3 linked regions of the Homo sapiens genome follow. The protein of the gene in region 3 interacts with the protein of the main gene of each other region in a pairwise test. Each region holds a gene or a part of one and is shown on either strand. Other genes may lie near its edges. The genes, in order: RAB38, FYN and DNM2.

Region 1 (3,749 bases), on a different chromosome or scaffold from region 3:
ACAGTAAGCCGTTTCTAAATCTGAATCCTGAGGACTTTCGAGCAGCCAGAAGGGTTTTCAGACATTATGACATGCAGCAAGAAAGTACACAGAGAGAATTTTTTTAGATGAAAAGCCCCATCCAACAGTGGCTGATAACATTTTCTGTTCTCTGATAACCCCCTTGCTACTAGAGCAGCTGAAGATGACTCCAAATGCATGAATCTGTTCATCTGTTCACATGCTAAAAGAAAAAGGCCTGGCAGTTCATGATTAAAGAGGCACGAAAGTCCCCAGATCACAAATGCCCTTTCAAAAATTTTCCACATTTGTTCTAGTTTCAAGCCATGATAAAGAGTTTCCAATCAAATGCATCAGCTAAAATGAATCCATTTTCTGAAACAGAAGTGGCTAGTTTGGGTCCAGCACTTATAACGAAAGGTTCCTGGTGTCACAGACCATGAAATAAGACTGTTTGAAGTTGTTCCCATGGAGAATCCCAGAGGACTTTAAAACTTCTGAGCAGGAAGATCCTTGACCCTTGCCCAACTCCTTTCCACTTAACAGCGATGCAACTGAGCTGAAGAGACTTGTCCAAAGCCACTGAGCAGGTTAGTTAGTGGCAGGGCTAAAATCTGTAATGAGGGGTTGGTCATGCGCAGGTTGCAAACAGCCTTGTCCAAGGATTCACACTTGGAGTAGATACATTGCACCCTCACTTTTGACTAGGCCTAACTTCTGGTACAAACCTGTGGAGTCAAAATCTGATTTTAAATATTGTAAAAAACAAAAACAAACAACCTCTCATTTTTCAGATCTCTCAATGAAAACTTTAGGGCCAAATCAAGAAATCATAAGGCTATCATAGGCCCTTACATAAAAATGGCCTTAAAATATACACACAACCTCCTTTTCATAGAAGACAGAGAGCCAGAGAGATAGAAATACAGAAAGAGAGGGAGAAAGAATACTTTGCCCCTGACATATACACACAAAAGTACTTGGCTTACTGTAAGCAAAAAGCAAAAAAAAAAAAAAAAAAAAACAAAACAAAAACCCTCAAACTCCTTTGTCTTAAGGGCAGAGAGAAAGGTGACAAAATTTGAAATAAAGTGAGCCACTGAAGACAGGAATGGGCAAACTCCAGCTAGCCTGGAACTATCCCGGTTTCCTCTGTGAACCAGCCTAGGGGCTTCCCCTCGGTCCGCCCCTGCACGGAAGGACGTGCGTGACACTGGGCTGCGTCATTGGCAGAACTGCCCGCGCCCAGAAAACGAGCTGGAGTGGAGAACAGAATGCAATTGCAGACAATCTTCCTCTGGTTCCCTGGGGAGGCCTGCTCTGGGCAGAGAGATCCCAGGGGACTGTGCGGGAAGGAGCTAAAGCAATAGCCCAAAAGCGCCAGGGAATGCACTTGAAGTTTCAGACGTTTTTCTTTTCTTTGAAACTAAGTTTCCAGCCCACCAGGAAAAACTGCCTCGCGACCTAGTGATTTTAATCTCACGCTTGGCCGCAAGCCGCTGCCTCGAGACTGGAAACCGGCCGCGAGGCGCTCTATCCCCCTGACCCCCTCCCCCCGCGCTCACCTGCGATATCCCAGAGCTGCAGGCGCACCACAGTCTCCGGGTCCCAGTGGAGCACCTTGAGCGCGAAGTCCACGCCGATTGTGGCCCGGTAGTGCGAAGAGAAGTTCTGGTGCACGTAGCGCTTGATGATACTGGTCTTCCCCACGCCCAGGTCGCCAATCACCAGCAACTTGTACAGGTGCTCCTTGTGCGGGGCCTGCATCCTGGCGGCCGGCCAGACGTGCCGTGCCTGACCAGGGAAGCGCAGCCTGGGCTCTGCGCACGAGAGAGACTTGGGGAGCGCAAGTGTAGGTGCAGAGAGAGGCGTGGGCGGCGGGGCGGGGGCTGGGGGGCGGAACTCCTCCCCTAGGGGTTAATCCTCCTTCCTACTCCGCGGTCTTGGAGAGGGGAGGAGACAGGAGCGAGTCCCGGGACTGGCAGCTGAAAGGGGTTCGCGTGTGGTTGCCTGTTGCAGCGCTTATTTATCCGGCGCTTTAGAGTTTCCGAAGAGCTGTTTTCACCTGTGACCCTGGCCACAAACTTGTGAGGTGTGGATCTTATTTTCCACGTTTTGCTTGCGAGAAAACTGATTGTGAAAAAGTACTCTGCGGGAGATGGCCGGTGAAAGGCCCCGTTGACCACAGGTCTGAAGTCACAGGCTCTTAACTACCCCACACTGTAGAGAGAAATTACAGTATTAGGAAGCCCAAGACTGGCTGGGCTTGGTTCCTGCGTGCCCTGGTTTTTAAGTTGAGGGACCATAAGTAAGTCATTTGAGCTCTCACAGCCTGTTATTTCTCAATGAATGGCAATGCTGACCTCTGAGCAGCTTGGAGGTGGGAACACTGAGCACTTTCACACCCATTCAACTGGTAATCAGTTAACAAGGAGGACAACTGGGCCGAAAATGCCAAGGGCACTGGTGACTTTTAGCCTCTTCCCATATCCTAAAAACTCAGAGCTGCACAGAAAGACAGTTTTAACAATCGGTCAGATTATTACAAATAATAATAATGGCAAACATTTATTGAGCACTCGCTATATGCCAGAGGGTTTATAAATTATGTCATTTAGTCATCCCAGCTGTCTTAATAATAGATACCATTTTTCTTCCTATTTTACAAATGAGGAAGCTAAGGACCAGACATTTTAAGTAATGGACCCAGAGTCAAATAGTAAGGAAAAAAACCAAATTCAAACATAGGTCTTTAGGTTCCCAACTTCTTTTTGTTGTTTTTGTTGTTTGTTTTCATTCATTTGACCAATATACATTTTATTACCAATTAATATATGACAAATTGTACTTATTTTGTCTTGTCTGTCTCCACCTACAAGAAGGTAAATTTTTTTGAGGCCAGTAGGCATTGTCTGCGTTAGGATTTCTGTATCATCCTCCTAACGCAGACAATGCCTACTGGCCTAAGAAAAATTTACCTTCTTGTGGGTGGAGACAGGACAAGACAAAATAAATACAATTTGTCATATATTAATTGGTAATAAAATAAGGCAGAAAGGGGATGTGAAGAGATTATATGGGGTTTGCCTTTTAGATAGGGTGGCCAGGGAAGGTTTCAGTAAGATGGAGACAATTTAGTAAAGACATAAAGAAAATGAGAAATTGGGCATTCAGGGCTAGGGGGTGAGCAGTTTATACCAAAATGAGCTATTTTGTACCTGAATGTGCTGTGAAGGAGCTCTGCTCACATTCTATCATTTCATCTTCTCAATTGCTTTATGAAGTGGGTTATTTTCTTCAATTTATAAATAAGGAAACCAAGATTAACAGCAGCTTTCTCAAGGGCACACATAACTAGTATGTGTTAGAACTAGGACTTAAACACAGGCCTGTGTGAAAGGGAGAAAGGAGGTTTGGCAAGGCCATTGTCTTTCTGCCTTCCTCTTCTGGCCTGACACTCCCTAAACTTTAGCCTCCACATGCCCCAAACAAGCAGAGGGATGCTGAAGATGTGTACCCGGGACAAGTCACATAACCTCTGAGCCTTGGTTTCCACATCAACGAAAGGAGAATGATAATACCTATGGCAGGGCATGGTTGCTCATGATTGTAATCCAAGCACTTTGGGAGGCTGAGGTGGGTGAATCACTTGAGGTCAGGAGTTCAAGACCAGCCTGGCCAACATGGTGAAACCCGTCTCTACTAAAAATACAAAAATTAGCCGGGCGTGGTGGCAGGTGACTATAATC
Region 2 (3,749 bases), on a different chromosome or scaffold from region 3:
CCATGTAATCCTAAAAATAATCCTTTAAATAAGTATCATTCCAGCCGGGCGTGGTGGCTCACGCCTGTAATCCCAGCACTTTGGGAGGATGAAGCTGGCAGACCACCAGGTCAGGAGATCGAGACCATTCTGGCCAACATGGTGAAACTCCGTCTCTACTAAAAATACAAAAATTAGCTGGGCGTGGTGGCAGGCACCTGTAATCCCAGCTACTCGGGAGGCTGAGGCAGGAGAATCACTCGAACCTGGGAGGTGGAGGTTGCAGTGAGCCAATATCGCGCCATTGCACTCCAGCCTAGTGATAGAGCAAGACTCCGTCTCAACAACAACAAAAAGGTATCATTCCAATTTTACAGATGAAAAAACTGAGGCTTAAAGGAGTTAAATATGCCCCTTGTTCGTGGTTAATTAGCTAGTAAGGATTCAAACCCAGGCCCATTGAGCAAAACGTCCATGGTCTTTCTTATGGCTGCCCATATACAGTATCTTACCTTCCCATTTCTTAGGAAGAGGAAACACCAGATTCATAGTGTACTGGTTTCCTGTTCTGCGGGTGCCTTAATTAACCACATGAAGTAGGACAGATGAGCACAGCAAGGTATCAGCATATTCTGAAAATCTGGATGGCCTGTGCCCGTCTAGTTATCCAGGTTAAGTGTCTTTGTCCCAACGGCTGTGTGTGCATTTTTGTTCAAAACCATCCTTTTAATCGGCTTTGAGATGCAGCCAAAACAAAATGTGCCCTCTGCCTTACCAAGCCACACTTCAGCGAAACACCCCTGACCCAGCTTCTTCTCCAGACACAACGAACGACGTGCAACTTCCCAAGCATCTTTAGCCAATCCAGAAGTTTGTGGGGTACAACTCGATGCAATCACAGTTAAGTTAAAACACAAACCATCAGCTTTCTCTACAGGAAAGGGAATTAATAAAGAAAACACAGTCCTTATAATCCATAATTATGCATGCACTAGGAAAGATGGAAGGTGACTTGCCCGTTAGGATGACACTCAACAAATATTTGCTTTTGGAAATGAAGAGCAAGATATTTTATGGCAGCTGGAACATTCCTTGGACCATTTGCTGGTTTATGAATTGAGAGTCATGTAATAGTACAACTTGAGCCATTTGCCAATTTTGCCCACTTACTATCTTTTTTTTTTTTTTTTTTTTTTTTTAGGAATTCCAGAATGTTAAAACCAAAACTGAAATTATTATTCCCCACTATTAGTAATTCAAACTTTCTTCCCGGTCACGCAGTCTTTATTTTCACCTTCCATCTTTGGTGTTTGGGATCTTCCAAACGGGGAAGCTAATAAGAGAGTAATTGAGTCTCAGCATACCCATCCATACTTCCCCAAACTGCCCATTTCCCAGTCTCTTGATCAACTGCAGGGATTCTCGAGGGATTTCCCAGACATCTTTGGTTTTGACAGACAGATCGGTAAGCCTTGGCATCCCTTTGTGACAGGGAACTACTAGGCGGCAGCAGAGACCTGCAGCTCTCTCTGATGGAGCAGGGCAGGGGCAGGAGAGGGAGAGAAGAGCAGAACACATGTAATGACAACACTCATAAGTGTAAACCCACACTAGCGGCGCACAGTGCTCCTCAAACAGTGCTACTACACCAGCAGACGACCACACACATCGTGGAACACTAGCAGCACACAGCGCTCCTTAAACAGCGCTACACCAGCAGACGACCACACACACGGTGGAAGATCAGACGCCACACACGGAAACATTTTCATTGGAGGTAGAAGAGAGGACGTTTTAAATTTAGACTACTCCATGAGCCCAGGTACGATACAGTCTATACATAGACATACACGCAGACTGCTTTGGTTTCTGTACTCACTGAGGAAGAAAAACGTTTTCAGCTCAACGTGCTAATAACATGTTTTTGGGAATGCTGAAAATATCCTTACTAATTTCAAACAGTGGTTTTGGATTAAAGAATGTCAATATGACTGTTCTTCCCCACCTTTAGTATCTAGATTACCCAGGGGATTAGGGATCTCTCTATATGACTATACTTAAAATTATAACTTTAGTGGAGGATCCTTCTATAGGACATTAAACTGTTATAAACTAGTAAGGTTGAAGATTATAACTGGTGGGGAAAAAAAGAAGTAACTTTTTTTAGTGATTTCTTCGCTTTCTAACTGATTCCATTCCACCATGTCAGATACTCCTGGGCTGCTTCTTGGATATTTTCCATTAAAAAAAAAAAAACAACTTTTTAACAGTCTTCGACGTATAATTTAGGTGTCTGGTTTGAAAGGAGAAAGAATGGAAACTAAAATTCACAGAAATTCAAGATGTGAAAGAATGTATTCTTTATAAAAAAAAGAAGAAAGGAAAAAGTAGTTAACACTCGGAGGTTTTTATTCTTTCTTTGTCTTCTTTCCTTCTTTCTTTCTCTTCTTTTTTAAAAAGAATATAACCTTTTAGAATCTGGCAGTGCTAAGGGGAACTTAAATGCCAAGTAAAAATCAGTCAGGCGAAAAAAGGTAACAAAGAATAAGAAATCAGGGAGTGACAAAAGCTGACAGAGCCTGCCTTGTGAGGTGGACAGACCTCCCGCTCCCTCCTGGCAGCCCCCGGACCCAGGGAAAGCAGATGTGCTGCTGGGCTGTAACTTGCTTTTTACTCCTTTCTTTTTGATGGAATCAGGCTCTGAGATGTTTAGGTAGGAAATTATTTATGTGTCAGCATTTCAAAGGCATTTTATTGTGTGAGAGAGAAAGAGGGAAGAGGGAAAGCCAATATAAAAACAAGTCTAACGTGAGATGGATTTTTTTTCCCCGAGATTAAAAAAAGTGTCTATTGTTCATATCCCCTCTTTCCTTCCAGCTTTACAATGTTATTAAGGTGCCCTTTCGAACACAGTATTTTCAAATGATCCAAACCCTGGGGATCCTGCTGATGTTTGGCTGTAATGAAATATATTTCAGCATTTGAAAAATCCTTACAACATGCAGGCATTTTGAGTATATCACTTAAGCTCAGGGAGATATTTTGTTCCATTTCTCCCAAATGTTTCATTAGAATCCACATAAACCGAGTTAGCCAATGCCATAATCAACTAGTACTGCAAGTGCTGTTAATATTTTCTATTGTTCATTAGTGCAAGGGATCAACAGACATTTCTTATTGTCATTTTCGAAAGATTGCTTTTTCATGCCAAAAATTATACATACATATTTCAATGATTGTGCACAGAGCAATAGTAGAGGTAAATCATATACTATTTTTGAGTCTTGCCTTTGTCCTGGAGAACAATAGAAAATGGAGAAATGGGTCACACAAAAAAATATCTCTAGGCTTAATAGGATATAGACATGTGTCTATACATGTGCACCTATATCTATAGGCACATGTGAACATGTATTATATAGTGGCATATAATACTTGCTAATCTAGGAAAGAAAGCAATCATTTTAACAATTGCACATAAAACCAGTCTTTGATAAAATGTATAAACTGCATATCTAATAATTATATGTTTTCAGAAAGAACAAAATAATGGTGATATCTGGGTGTTAGGACAGAAACTGATGTACATTATAAAAGTTTAATTTAACACAATAGACATAATAGATCTAAGAGCTGTGGGTTGTGTAAGTCTAAGCCTAGTTAGGAAACAGCAGTATTGGTGGGGAACATGATAAATGGCTTGCATGAGAATGAAATGTACGTGCAGCTATTCCTGCAACAGTGCTGAGGGTAAAGTGATAGTGGAAACA
Region 3 (3,749 bases):
TTAGCCAAGCTGGTTTCGAACCTCTAACCTCAGGTGATCTGCCCTCCTTGGCCTCCCAAAGTGCTGGGATTACAGGCATGAGCCACCGCACCTGGCGCTTTTTGCCTATTTCTTTGAGACCTGGGGTTTTGGGTCACAAAACAGGCAAATGCCATGAGCCACCCTCCTCCTCTTTCTCCATCTTCTTGTGCTGCCTCAGGTCAGAGCACTTACCTGCTCCTGCCTTCTCACTGGGTTTCCTTGTCTCTGGCCTATTTGTCTCCAGAGGGGTCAAAACACTTCAAATCCTCCTATTTGTCTCTGTCCACTGTCAGGAGTTCCAGTTCCCAGAACCCCAATTTTGCCTACAAAATAGCGTGTCTTTTCACGGGGAGAGGATTTGTTGAGTTTTAGTGGGTACTCAAAAAGATCTAAAGCCAGTTGGGGGGGTTCACACATGTAATCCCAGCACTTTTGGGAGGCCGGCCTGTGAGGGTCGTTTGGGCGCAGGAGTTTGAGACCAGCCTGGACAACACAGCAAGACCCTGTCTCTATAAAAAATAAAATAAAAATAATTAGCTGGGCATAGTTGCGCACGTCTGTGGTTCCAGCTACTCGGGACGCTGAGGCGGGAGGATCGTTTGAGCCCAGGTGCTTGTTGAATTGAGCTATGAGTGCACTACTGCACCCCAGCCTGGGCAACAGAGTAAGGACCCAGTTTCTAAGAAAAGAAGATTCATTAGCTAGACGCGGTGGCTCACACCTGTAATTCCAACACTTTGGGAGGCCAAGACGGGCGGATCACTTGAGGCCAGGCGTTCGAGACCAGCCTGGCCAATATGGTGAAACCCCGTCTACTAAAAATACAAAATTAGCTGGGCGTGGTGGCTCACACTTGTAATCCCAGCTATTCGGGAGGCTGAGGCAGGAGAATTGGTTGAACCGGGGAGGCGGAGGTTGCAGTGAGCCAAGATCGCGCTACTGCACTCCAGCCTGGGTGACAGAGTGAGTACCCCGCCTCAAAAAAAAGAAAAGAAAAAAGATTCATGATCTGCTAAAGTTGAAGAAGTGGGGGAAAACATTGGAGTGTTAGCGGCGTCAAGATCGGGCGTGAGCAGAAAGGGCACAGCATTTGCAAAGGCGTGGAGGAGTGATTTTATTGCGTTCTATCCCTAGGAAGCAATGACTTGGCCTCTACCATTTGCAGAGCGCATTGGGACCCTGCTCCCAGAGCTGGTTTGCAGTCTGGGAACTGAGATGCGCTCTGGGACTTGTAGTTTTCCCCAGTGCCAGGAAACTCAAAAATCGAGACATCGGATCCCACCACGAGGTGTCGCCCTTGAGCGAGTACGGTGGGATCTATCCTATACTTCAGAAGGCTGTTGCAGACATCCAACAATCACAAGGAAGAACGGGAGTTTTTCTGATTGACAGATATGGTTCTCAATGATAGTCAAGATTCGGATGTTAAAGCCCGCCCTCTTTTGCCTGGTTGGCTGGAGCAACGAAGTGATATTTATATGAACCAATGGGAAATTCTTAGGGAACGAGGTAGTAGCTCAATCCCCAACACCATTGGTCCACATTGTCTACTGGCACGTCTGCCTGCCAATAAGATGGTGGAACTTCGCCAATGGGCAGAGCCAACGTGCCTTTTTCGGAAACACCCCCTTCCTCTCTTGACAACTTGCTTTCTGCCGCTATTGGCTGTTGCACAACAGTGACGGTTCTTTTGTCCAATAAGTCAGCAAGACGGTCCCCAGGGGGAAGGTTTACTCAACCATAGGCCCGTGCCTAGTTTTTATTGGCTAGTGTATCCGAGTGGCGGTGCAGCAGGCCAGTCGCGTGCGGCGCGAGTGCTTTGGGCGCAGCCCCCGGGGCCGGGGCGGGAGGTCGCTCGGGTCGGGTGTCGCCTGAGAACCGGATGAGGCGGCGACCGTGAGGCCGAGCCGGGAGCGGGCGTCTTGCCGAGGCCCGGGCGGGCGGGGAGCAACGGCTACAGACGCCGCGGGGCCAGGTCGTTGAGGGTCGGCGGCGGGCGAGGAGCGCAGGGCGCTCGGGCCGGGGGCCGCCGGCGCCATGGGCAACCGCGGGATGGAAGAGCTGATCCCGCTGGTCAACAAACTGCAGGACGCCTTCAGCTCCATCGGCCAGAGCTGCCACCTGGACCTGCCGCAGATCGCTGTAGTGGGCGGCCAGAGCGCCGGCAAGAGCTCGGTGCTGGAGAACTTCGTGGGCCGGTGAGCGGGCGCGGCAGGGATCGCGGGCGGGTGGCGGCCTAGGGCGCGGAGGGCGGACCGGGAATGGCGCGCCGTGCGCCGCCGGCGTAACTGCGGCGCTTGCGTGCCCGCGGCGGGGAACCGGACGGGGTCGGGGAGGCGGGCCCTGTGGGACGCCCTGGGCAGAGGACTCCCTGCAGGGGCTCCGGAGCAGGCCCGGGCCCCAGGGGCGGTGTCACGGGCCAGGGCGCCGTAGGACAGGAGGTGCGCTGGAACCCTGCGGTCCATCTGGTCCCAGCTTTCGTGGGTGAAGTCTGCCATCTGGTTGGCCGTGGGTCTGGGGTAGATCCCTCTTCTGCTCTTTCGGGCTGTCCATCAGAGGTGAAACCGGCCATCTAGATATCTATTGGGGCGACCGCTGCGGTCTGGCTGGCTTGTTCTTGTATCTGGAGCTGCCCCCGCCGTCTGGTTGGCTGTCTCTCTGTCCTGGGCAAGCCTCCCTGCCACCACCATTTGGTTGTCCATCTGTCCAGTCCCACCTGGCAGCCCCCTGCTGTCTGGCTAGCTGTCCAGGGTGACCTCTGCTGTCTGGCCGCCCATCCGTGCCCCTCACAGACTTTAACACTGAGCAGTCCCTCTGTTGGGTGACACCAGCTGGCCTCTACTGTCTGACTGGCTAGCTGACTCCTAGGGGACCCTGTTTGATTCTCTCTGGCTGACTCTTACAGCTTGATTCCTGGCTAGCGCTGGCTCCTCTCTTCCGTGTGAATTCTTCTGTCTGTCTGGCCATCTCCTAGTCTGCCCATGACTACCCCTGAGTGTCTGGCACAACGGCTCTGGAAAGGGGTGGTAGGAGGGTAGAGGGGAGAACAGAGCTGAAGGAGGAGGTTTGGACCCTACTTCCCCTCTCAGCTGGAAGGAGGACTCTGGGGGTACCTTACTTCAGGATTCCTTTCCGAGTGCTAGAACACAGGGGCCCGCCTCCCAGCTACAGCCTACAAATTGGGGGCCCTCCTTTGGAGCCTGGGAAGGGGCTTCTTGCGTGATCAGGCCTCAGTGGCTAGCGCTGGGATGTAGCCTTCTCTGGACAGCCTTGAGAAGCCGCGGTGTGCCCATCTGTCCAGTGGGCAAACTCCACTCTCTGGGGCTGTTTCCAGGATTCAGGAAGCAAATGAATGAGAACAGCCCGTGCAGCCACCTCTCCCTCCCACCAACCCCTCTTGCCTTTCTTGTCTCCCAGATGGGCGGCCACTTCTCCATTCCAGGAACTACTCATTTGTGGTGGTGTGGCTGCCAAATGATAACATCCTCCTCCTGTCATTATTGTCATTGTTATTGTTGTTATCATTGTCAAGGGATAATGTCCCTTCTTGATTCAACATCTTGAATCCCAAGTAAGGAGTGGGGTGGAGGCTGTGTTATCATCCCCACCTTAGCTGAGCTGGGAGGCTCAGAAGGGACTGTGATCACCCAAGGCCACTAGGCTGGCGTAAGGCCTTGTGTCTGCCATCCCAGAGCCTTGGGGCTTTGCTCCAAGCAGCACAAATCTCC

The links.
Region 1: the proteins of DNM2 (region 3) and RAB38 interact in binary tests that used the Homo sapiens proteins (3 or more experiments, as listed by UniProt).
Region 2: the proteins of DNM2 (region 3) and FYN interact in binary tests that used the Homo sapiens proteins (3 or more experiments, as listed by UniProt).

The regions. Positions count from the first base shown.
Region 1 is NC_000011.10:88,173,618-88,177,366, forward strand, and holds the start of RAB38 (ras-related protein Rab-38), read right to left. Parts: upstream 1,827-3,749; 5' UTR 1,768-1,826; coding exon 1,566-1,767; intron 1-1,565. UniProt on the Homo sapiens protein: The small GTPases Rab are key regulators of intracellular membrane trafficking, from the formation of transport vesicles to their fusion with membranes.
Region 2 is NC_000006.12:111,698,761-111,702,509, forward strand, and holds part of FYN (tyrosine-protein kinase Fyn), read right to left. Parts: intron 1,509-3,749; coding exon 1,344-1,508; intron 911-1,343; coding exon of another isoform or gene 755-910; intron 1-754. UniProt on the Homo sapiens protein: Non-receptor tyrosine-protein kinase that plays a role in many biological processes including regulation of cell growth and survival, cell adhesion, integrin-mediated signaling, cytoskeletal remodeling, cell motility, immune response and axon guidance.
Region 3 is NC_000019.10:10,716,185-10,719,933, forward strand, and holds the start of DNM2 (dynamin-2), read left to right. Parts: upstream 1-1,894; 5' UTR 1,895-2,058; coding exon 2,059-2,219; exon of another isoform or gene 2,220-2,319; intron 2,320-3,749. UniProt on the Homo sapiens protein: Catalyzes the hydrolysis of GTP and utilizes this energy to mediate vesicle scission at plasma membrane during endocytosis and filament remodeling at many actin structures during organization of the actin cytoskeleton.